Linked DNA regions of Homo sapiens: region 2 is linked to region 1. The links come from fine-mapping of genetic effects on gene expression. A gene starts in region 1. The other region holds a variant in brackets. All regions are shown on one strand. Distances are between the middles of the regions.

The links.
Region 2: its variant is fine-mapped to the expression of BOC in tibial artery (GTEx, PIP 0.98).

What each region holds. Positions count from the first base shown.
Region 1 is chr3:113,209,440-113,214,811 of GRCh38, reverse strand. It overlaps BOC (BOC cell adhesion associated, oncogene regulated), which reads right to left and starts at 3,255. Exons shown (of 20, transcript NM_001378074.1): 1 at 2,796-3,255. It overlaps LOC124909486, which reads left to right. Exons shown (of 2, transcript XM_047449436.1): 2 at 2,532-5,372. The coding sequence ends at 3,257. RefSeq lists an enhancer at 2,243-2,894.
Region 2 is chr3:113,244,452-113,249,823 of GRCh38, reverse strand. It overlaps BOC (BOC cell adhesion associated, oncogene regulated), which reads right to left. Exons shown (of 20, transcript NM_001378074.1): 3 at 1-102. The coding sequence starts at 21. Among named protein-coding and RNA genes, the nearest start is that of BOC, 36 kb to the right of the region's middle. The variant A/G (reference allele first, on the strand shown) is at 2,255.

The sequences.
Region 1 (5,372 bases):
ACTAAAAATGTTTGCTGAATTGAAGTATGGAGATGACAAGAAGTTACATATGTTAGAGTAAATAGATTTTTCTAAATGGAACATATTATTTTCTTTCCTCTCCCTCTCAAATTTCGATTCTTTTCTCCTGTCCCATATTTTCCCAGACAGCAAGAGGGCTTAGAGTTTGGAGGAAAGAAAGCAACTTCCAAATATATAATATCTTTTGGTGCCAAGTTAATATTTTCTTATTCAGAGGCCACAAGGTATTGGATAGCAATTATTTGGTGCACCTGAGTTTTCTGTTGTAGTTTGAAAGACACAGAGATAAACCCTAATTCATTACCCACATCAGTGGCTTTGCCGAAATTTGAACCCAGACCCCCTAGGGGACACGGAACACTATGACACATCAGGCTCACTTCTTGCTCTCCTTTTTCAAACCGTGGGGGGTCCATGTGAAAGTCAACTGAATTATTTCATGGGTAAAATCTCTTATTCATTCTTAGGGCATGGAAACCATGTTGTTGAAGAGAGCCGGGATCCCAAACACTTGAAAAAGCACTTCAAAAAAAGGGAAAATCTCTGGACCCATTTGGAGGGTGGAAAGGAACATAAATCACACAGCTTACCAAGAGTTGGCTCACCAATTAACAGCTAAGCAGAGTCCTCTCTATTTTTTCCCCACACCCTCCCTCTCCAGTTGTAGTCAAAGAATCAACCATTCTGGCTTCTAGCAACCTCTTTTCCCAAGTAAAGCCAGTGGCCTATGGCGTGGGGGACAACTGCTCCCTAGCGAATGTCTCTTGCAGTGAAGCATTTCTGAAGTATCTCGATAGAGGATAAAAGAGACAGTGTCTGAGGTCTCAATCCTCAGGCTTCATAAATGTGTAGACACCCTCCAGCCTCCTCAAGGCCCAAATTCTGAGTGACAAATCTATACAGGGGAGGACAGTGTCAGCAAAGTGGCCCAATGAGGCAACTCTTCTTTCTTTCATTTTACCTCTTTGCATAAACTCATTTGAAAAACTCATAGCAGGAAAATAATAACTCTACTGCTGTTTCTGCCCGGCCTCTGTCCCACTGACCCCAAGGTGCTTTCAGATCACCACGAGAAGCTTCTGGGTCTCAATTATGAGACCATTAAAAAGTACCAATTATAAGACCTCAGAAATGTTTCTGGGAAACCTGTTACACACCTCAAAATGGCTAACCTCTTGCCTCAGATTTACTTTAAGTTCAGAAAACAGGTCACCCAGATGTATGGGCATCCTAGCCCCCACAAGCAGCCCAAGACTGTGGTTTAATATTTTCCATGCTGCCCTTAAGAAAACGAAGATTGATTTATTGGCTGTAACCAAAGGGATGAAAAAAACCATCACAGAGCTGGGCTGCCTGTTTAAGACCCAGTCGTGGAATAAATCAGAAATGTCTGCACACTGAAGTTTTAAAATGACATTCATCCAATGGTCAATGTGTACCGAGTTCTGGACAACAAAGAACTAGGTGACAAATGTGTGCTGGGCACAGTGCATCTGCAGGTGGCACAAGGGCCTGAAATCAAAATATAATCTTCACTCAGTCCACTCAAAGAGGTAACTCTGGGTCAAAAACTTAGGCGAACCCATTTGAACTTGCAGAGAAGGGATGAGGGGAGCAGCAGAACACCCCACCACACCCAAAAAGTGCCAGTTTGGGATTGCTGGTGTGTGGTTTCGGTATTCTTAGCTCTACTGCCACATCTCTGGAGGAGCACAACTCTGTTCCAAGCAACTCTGGCACTGCCACCCCCATCCCCAAAACAAAACTCTGCCAAACAAATCCCCGAGGCTCCATTAACTCCTTCAGGTCTGCCTGCCTCTCTCATCCCTCAGCATTCTCCCATCACCTGGAAAAGCAAATTAATACTGAACATCCTGAAAGTCAAGCAGGCCCTTCAACACCCCCATGAAAATTCTTCCTGGGTTCCCTGCCCTCCCCACAGCCCCGTCCCACTGGTTCCAGAGATTCATTTCCCACACCTTCTCACAGTTACATCAACAAAAACCCCAGGAGGACGCTGCTGGCGCGAACACGCACACACGCGCGCGCACACACGTACACGCACACACGAACTCTCTCTCTCACACACACACACACCTCTTTCACCTTTGCCCCAGCCCCTCAGACACCTCGGGCCACTCGGCTTCAGCCTCGCCCCTCTGCGCCAACAGCTAGGGATGCTTCCCTCAAGCTGCGTCGCTCCCGGTCCGCTGAGTTCCTCATTTTAGTGTTTTTCCTTTAGAAGACGCCAACTATGAGAAACCCTCACCCTCCAAAGAGGCCGAGTGCGTGTTGAGTGACTCTACGCATTTGCCGCCACGCCTCGGGTTCCCCCCACGGCCTGGAGCATGGGGCCGGGGCGCTGGTGTCAACCTTCGGTGGAAGTTTGGGAGGCTGGCTGGATCCTTCTTCCACCCGAGAAGCTTCTGGGAACCGCTGAGGCGAAACCACCATCGCCCGGCCAGACCGCTGCGGCAGGGAACGAGATGCGGCGCCCCTGGGCCCCGTAGCGGCTGCAGCCCCCGGGACCCCCGCTGCCCGCCTCGCCCCAACTTCTTCGCCCGGCGCCCGGCGCGCCCAGCCTCGGCCGCAGCTCCCAGCCCCGGGCGCCCGGCCGAGCGCTGGGACCCGGCTCCCGCCGCCGGCACGTCCCCCGGCAGCCACTCGCTGGCGCTGCCTCGGCCTGCGGCCGCCTCCCGCCCCCTCCTCTCCCCGAACCAACAGTAAACACAACTTTTTATGAAAAGAAAACAAACTTCAGCGACGTGACTCACCTCTGCTGCAGCCGGCGCCTGGGAAGGGCGAGCCGGGGCCCGGGGGCCAGCGTGGTGGGCGCGAGGGAGCCACACAGCGCCGCGCCGCACGGACACACAACACGCTCGGTGACACCGGGGACACACAACACGGGCGAGCGGCCGCGGCTGGAGCAACAAAGGAGCCGAGGACCGAGAAGTTGCGGGCCGGAGAGGGAGGGCGCGTGCGGGCGTGTTGTGGCTGTGGCGGGCGTGAGGGTGTGCGCGCCGTGTGTGCGCGTGTGTGTCTTTTCTGTGTGTGTTTGTGTGTCTCTGTGTGTGTGTCTGTGCGCGCGCGCGGCGGCTGACACCGGCGGGCCGGGGCTCAGGGTCCCCGCGGCAGAAAGCGGCGGCCGCGGGGGCGGCAGCAGGAGGACAACGCAGGGGACGCCGCGCCCAGCGCACCCGGTCCCTCCATATGGAAGAAGCTTTTTGGATGACTGAACTCGCAAACAATTCCTTCTTTTGCTTCTCCTGCCTAGGAGCCTCCCATTACCGTGCGAGGAGGAGGAGGAGGAGGGAGTGGAGGAGGCTGGGAGGAGGGGGAGGAGCAAAATGGAGCAAAGAAAAAGTCTTGGAAAGGAAGCTGGAAAAAGTCCCCCAAACTCTAGGGCAGTTTTCCCGTTAACACCCACTTTTTGCTGTGCCTCAGACCCGCGCTCTCCTCCAACTTCTTTTGCTTTCCCATACCAAAAGCACCATCTTCTCCCTTTTCCCCGAACCCAGGGGGCTCCCCTGAAGCCTTCACTTTCTCTTTAGCTTCACCTCGCACCCTTGCTCTTCCATGTACAATCCTTCCCTCCTTTCGCCTAGTCTCTTCCAAGACTTTCCTGACACCCACCTCTCAATGGTCTTCTTCTTCTGCAAGACAAACTGTTGGATAAATCATTAAAAGCAAACTCATCAGAAAATGGGACAGCGGCGGTGGAGAAAATGATAAGGAAACCAATCTCAGGGAAGCCTTAACGCAGCCTCCCCCGACCCCCTCGGTCGGTTGGGGAGGGTTTGCCGCGTCGTCCATTGACAGCGCCCTGACCTCCATTCATCATCCCAGGATGGAGCCAGGGAGGAATGGGGAGGGAGAGCTGGGGCTGGGGTTGGGGGCATGGGTTGGGGGTGCTAGTGGCCACGGAAAAGTTAGTTACCTATGCGTGTGTATGTGTACGCGCACGCGCGCGTGTGTGTTGGTCAGAAAACTTTCAGAGCTGTGGTTCTCAAACTTGATCTGCAGCAGGACTCCCTGGAAGGCTTGCTAAATCCCTTTGCTGGGCCCCACCTCCAGAGTTTCTGATTCAGTAGGTGGACCTGGGAATTTGCATTTCAAATAGGTTCCCAGGTGATGCTGATGCTGCAGGTCAGGGGCCACGTTTTAAAAACTACCTTTCCAGGGCAGTGAGAAGGCAAATGTTGAGTTGGTGGCAAATTGGATTCCCTTCTTATTTTTTAGGAATGAAGCACAGGTTGTGAGCGGTCATCCATTCCGTATCTTCATTGCAGCTGAGAAAACCAAGTCCCAGCAGGGCTAAGCCATTTGTTTAAAGTGAACTGGGAGTTTGTGCCAAGCTGGTGAGGAAGCTGTCCTGGAAATAAGACAGCCAGGCTAGTAGTAGGGTGAATGGGGGTGCTGCCTTCCCTGTGTGGCTGGACAGCTGCACTGGGAGTCAGGAAGCCACTGTGACTTTGGAAAGTCACTTAACTTTTCTGGGCCTCTGGGGGTTTTGTGTGTGTGTGTGTGTGTGTGTGTGTGTGTGTGTGTGTGTGTGTGTGTGTTTGTTTGTTTGTTTGTTTTTTGACAGAGTCTCACTCTGTCGCCCAGGCTAGAGTGTAGTGGTGCAATCTCGGCTCACTGCAAAGTCTGCCTCCTGAATTCGAGAGATTCTCCAGTGTCAGCCTCCCAAGCAGCTGGGATTACAAGCACCTGCCACCATGCGCGGCTAATTTTTGTATTTTTAGTAGAGACGGAGTTTCACCATGTTGTCCAGGCTGGTCTTGAACACCTAGCCTCAAGTGATCTGCCCACCTTGGCCTCCCAAAGTGCTAAAATTACAGGCGTGAGCCACCTCACCCGGCCCTGTTTTGTTTTTTATTAACTTGTTTCTTGTCAGTAAACATACATACTTTACACTGAGTATAGGACTCTAATTGAATCTGAACCAAAAGACCTTTACAAAGGAAACATAAATGTATTTTATTCCATATTTTGCACTATTTTTTCTCCGGTATTTAGTCATTCAGGCAGAAGCCAATTTCCTTTTTGATTTATCGAGTACTTTCAGCTCTGTGCCTGGATTCTTAGGCATGTTCCTCTGGCAAAATGGATCTGGAGGATGATGCATTTTCAGCAAGAAGGTGAAAAGGACTCTGAACTCTCTCTGTGCATTATCCACCTACATTTCCTTTTCCTACTTAATCATCCTAATTTTCCTTCCCTTTTAATCTCTAACAATCTCCCCCAACATTCTCAAAGACCTATTTTTCTTTCCAGTCATTGACTATATTAGCTTCCACTTTCTTTTGTCCTCCTTCCAAGGCACAATTCTGGACTACAAGGCCTGGGGT
Region 2 (5,372 bases), 35 kb before region 1:
CGTCATCGTCCCACGCAGCATGGTGTATCACAAAGGTCTGAAGCCAACGTCCCATAAGCCGCCAGGGTCACACAAAGAGATACTGCCGTCCCTGGCAACACTCTGTTGTAAGAGAGAAAGGGAGAGCAATGGCCATGATGAGGATGCCTGGGGTGCACCTGTGGTGGCCACAGGGCTTGGCTTTGTCCCTTGTTCCCTGTTGGCAACATTCAAACTAGAGACCCGGTCATGCTGCTGGAAGACCAAAGAACACTATAGTGCCATTTCTCATCTAAAAGAAGCTTCTTATAAGTTGCCCCCTAGGGCTCTTTCTCTAGCTAGAAGGTGATTTTATTGTAGTAAGAATGCTGGAGTCTTGCCCAGTGGATGGACAGCAACGAGGAGGAGGGGCAGAGGATACAGAGAGGCTGAGGCCTGCAGCCATATCCATGGCACAGGACAGTGACTATCTGGCACAGATGCTAGAACAGATGAGATTATTCTTACCATTTGCTTGCAAAAGGCCAGCTGGTCACAGCCATGTGCCCTGCCATGTGGTTAGTGCAGACTATTGTGGGACAGCAGTGCCGTGTGTGTGATGCATACAGAACGCCCTTGCAGGGAATGCTACTAAGTGAATGAATCCTAGCATCTCAGTGACTCATGAAATATTTCCTGCTCTGATTTTCCTCACCCCAGCTCTATGCCTAGATCCCTGAAAACTCCCTTTTATTCCTGCAATCACCCTGCTCTCCTCAGCTTGTCCATAACATCTACTCCCACAGGTACAAACACAGCCCAAAGTCATAAGCCAGCCAAGACCCCTCACTTTCTCAGGGCACAGAGCCTTGTTTTCGCTTCACTCACTAGCTCCCACTTCTCTCTGCTCCCGGTGCTAGAAAATTTTGAACTTTTCCGTCTCTACAAAATCTACACTCTTGATTACCCAAGTTGTATCTCCACCCAGAACAACATTGCTTTGAGGCTCAGACCACACTGCACCTCCAGCCATCTGACAACACACCTCAGCTATCAGTCACCCTCTCTGCCTAGAACAGTAGCATCTCCTGTTCCAGAAGGCACAATTTTTTATGCCTTTCTTAAGCTATGGTCCTTACAAGATTTATCAAAATCACATGGGCAAGTGTATATTCTAACACACACACACACTTCTGTCACAGCCAAAACAAAGATTTTGCTTCTGTGCTTTTCACTGATGGGTTTATAGAACATTAACAAATAAGGATGGGGTATCAACAGCCTTATTAGGCAGGGAGGCATTGAAATGAGTTCGGATAACGTTGAAGGCAACATTCCAGTGATCTGCACGGTGGATCATTCACCTGTGGCAATATTAATAGTATATTTCTAGGAGTGTGACATACATTCAAAATGTTAACTCTTCTAGATCAATCTACCTAACCAGAGACTCTCTCGAAGATTTACAGTCACCATTTAAAACTCAGAAGTAGTTAAGCTTCTCAACTGAGAGATGTGTTGTGCTGGCCAGTCCTAGAGTTCAGGCTGCCTGCAGAGACTGCCGTAAGAAACAGGAGACACCCGACTTGCCTGACACAGGGGACTGTTGCTGTGTTGGGAAGTGCTTCGGATTAACCTAAACCTTTCCCTTCCCCAAGACCTGTGGTCCTTTGGCTTTCTGCCTGGCTGCAGAGGGAGTGAGGAGGGCCATATCCACACTGCCCAATGAGCACCCCTCCAAACCAGATGGAGGACCCCAGCCCCTAGCATTCTGTGGATGCTCAGAATGTTTTCCAAGAGTTCTTTCCCGATGGTTTGTATTTTCTCCCTTTGCCTCATGACTTTGACATCAGAGGACTCACAAGACTTCAGCACTACTCTGGGATAGGACAAGGGGATGTTTTCTAAAAGGGATTTGAAAGAACATTTTTAAAGAAGTTTTTCAAAAGTTATTTCCTGGCAAGTTAAGATAATTTCCCGTTGGTGTAGAGAGAGAGCTTTTGCTCTTTTTCAAACAATCCAGTAAATCAAAGGGTCATATTATTGGCAAAGTAAAATTCATGAAAGCTGCAAAGGATGTGAGTACAATTGGGAGGGGCTGTGGTGGTGGAAAGCTGGGGGTGCCTGCCACTACTCCAGGAACTCGCTAAGCTCTTACACAATGTATTTCCTTTAACCTTCTCATCAACCCTGCAAGGTGACGACTATATCCCCATTTTACAGGAGAGAAAATTGAGTTCCAGAAGTGAAGTTGCCCAGGATCACATAACAGTAGGCCTGGATTGAAACCCAGTTT[A/G]GGCTGATTCCCAAACTCTGTGCTTTTTAATCACAATAGTAGCCTTTTTCCCTTTTTTTTTTTTTTTTTCCTATCAGGGCTCTGAAACCAGTGGGTGTTTAGCAAACAGAGTTGATGTAGAACAGTGGGACATTTTAACAGTGATTTCTAGAGGGAAAGTTTACACCAAAAAGTAAGCTTTTGGTTTCCTCTCAATTTTCCAGATACTTGCTTTAATTCTCTAATTTGCTTTTCCCCAATGAGATAAGGTATTTATATAGATCATTGCATGAGTTCCCAGTTATGGGATTTTAGGGAACTAGCTTGTTCAAGTCATGCCCCAATTTCCCCAGGCCCTTAAGGAAATTGAAAGCAAATGTTCCTTCCATGCCCCAAGAAGGGAAGGAAGGGAGGGAGGAAGAAAGGGAAGAAGGGAGGTAGGGAGACAGAAAATGAACATAAAGTAATGAAGGGCAAAAGAGGACAAGCAGACAAAGAGGAATGGAAGGGTTGTTTCTTATCTGAACACACGGTGGCTACGGAGGTGTTGGGTTGTAACAGCAACAAATATTTTACTGAGGAAATTCAGCCCAGACCCTCTCCTGCTTAACGAGGACCAGCCAAACAATTCCTGTTACTTCTGCACCCTCGGTAATTTATAAGGTTCAAAATGGAAACAGATCCTGTTGCTGCTGCCAGCCACCATCCTGCTTTCAAAAACAACAAGGAGAAAAGAATTGGGAGTGAGAGGGAGTGAGAAGGTGCAGGTATCCAGAGAGGGAGAAAGGAGTTAACCCATTAAGCCCCACAACACAGTTGTAAGAAGTACCATTTTAAGGACCCCAAAACAGGATGCGTGGGGTCTCATTCATGTAAAAGCAGAACTATGACCAAAAAATATGGCTATGTTTGGGGAAGGTTGGGGGGCTTGGTCACTGGATGATGATTATAAATAAATAAATAAAATTATAAATACATAAAATGATGCATTTTATTTAGTATCTGGGGAAAGTGAGTTACTTTTTGAACCAAGTTACCTAGTGAGTTTGGTTTAGAAAGATAATTCTAGAGATTTCAGTTACCTGAGAACTTTATTTTAATGTTTCGGGAAAAAAGGCAAGTAACGCTTAAGCTGGAGAACCTAATTGCAGTGTAACGTTGTCCCATTGTGAAATGAACAAAGTACAATTTCAAAGTTGGGTGAAGGCAACAGTAAGGCCTATTATTTTTCTTGGCAATGCAAAATATATCTAAGATCCTTCTTATTTTCCTTAGTCATTTTCTGAGACAAAGCAGAGAAATCAAGAAAAAAATATCAAAATCATTTGACACCTCATTGAGGCCTAGGTACTTGACAGTTTAAAGGGTTATTTGGACACACACAAAAAAAGAAAGAAAATGGGTCTGAAACATTTAACTGCTGACACACATGTTCTCCACTGAAATAATCTCTTCCAAACAGATGTTTTTGAAACTTTCCAAAAACAACAACAACAAAACACACTCTGGGGTTAAGACCAATCCTGAGAAACTGTAGCCTCAGAGTATTTATTTTTTGAGAAAATTACAAACAACTGAGAGTCGATCATCATCAGGAGGAGGCCAGCTCCACTTCCTCCCAAGAGGGCTGGCTGACTAACTGGATCAAGAGTGAGAACACCACAAAAAGCCGTCGGCTCATCCCCTGGACGCCCATGCCACGGCAGCTGTCAGAAAGGGAAGCTTCTATGATCTAAAACACAAAACATGCCCTTTGGATGTCCTAAGACCAATAACAAAGGTGAGCTGAATAGGAGAGAGTGTGATGTAGCAGATAGCACAAAGAGACTTTCTTAAAAACATTCTTCAAGTGGCAAGAATACGATCTGACAAAGTCTTTTGTTCCATTGGTAGAGAGGGACTAGCTACATGAAAAAGAAAAAAATCCTGCTCCAAGTTACTTTTCATTTTGCATGCTCCCAGTTTTCTAGAGTAAGAATCACCTTTCCCAATTGTCTTAAAGGCAGGGAAAGCTTTGCTCCTAGAAGGTGATGCCAAGTGTCTGGGGTGCAAGTGTTGGCAGCCCCCTATCTCAAGAAAGAGGGTAGTACTCCTGCACAGAAGAGAGGCATTGAAGCAAATATTGGGGAAATAAGTGAATTTAATTTTCAGAGGGCTGAATATGTGAGTTTAGATAGACTTAGGAGAAGGAATTAAGAAAGAAAGGTTTACTGAGGAGGCTGAGGTAGGAGGATCACTTCAGCCCAGGAATTTGAGGTTGTAGTGAGCTATGACAGGCACTGCACTGCATTCCAGCCTGGGCAACAGAGCAAGACTCTGTCTCTAAAAAAAGAGAAAGAAAGCTTATCAAAACATCAGGTTGTATACCTTTAAATATATACAAAAAACAAAGGTCATTTTTACTTAAAAAGTTGTATTTGACACACAGACCTAATTTAAAAAATTTTTTTAATTAAAATTTTTTTTAATTCGGAGGGACCTCAGAGAAAATAAACAAGTATCGTAGAGTAATGCCTAATGTGTTTTGAGTGTTATGAATAATGTGTCAAGGCTGAATGAGTCTAAGTGATTTGTAGAAGGTCTCCCAGCTAATTCAGAAGGGAGACTTTGGGCTACAAGTCAGGTCTTCTCACTCCTAGTCCAGTGCTCCTTTTACTATCTTAACACTACCTCCTAGCAAATTGTTTCTGGAGCCACTTTAATCAACTGGCTAGAAACGGTTTCAAAGCCAATTTTAGAATGTTTCTGAATTTACTTCCTTATACATAAGAATAATGTTACCTGGATCATTATCTATAACAGTAACTTTCTGTGTGATCATTTTTATCCTTTCATCATACATTCTAATCTATAAAAATCTCCTACTGTTCATTGCATAAGCCCCTTCCGTAGAATTTTCTGCAATGATGGAAATATTCTATATTTGTGCTGTCTAAAGCACTAGATAGCTACTAGCCACTCAGGGCTATGAAGTTCTCAAAATGTGGCTAATGTGACTAAGACACTGAAGTTTTAATTTTCTTTAAATTTAACTTAAATAACCATACAGAGCTAGTGGTTGCCACATTAGACAGCACAGTTCTAGACTAATATCTGGAACATCTACCCAGAACACTCTGATGTCAAATAGGGGAGAAAA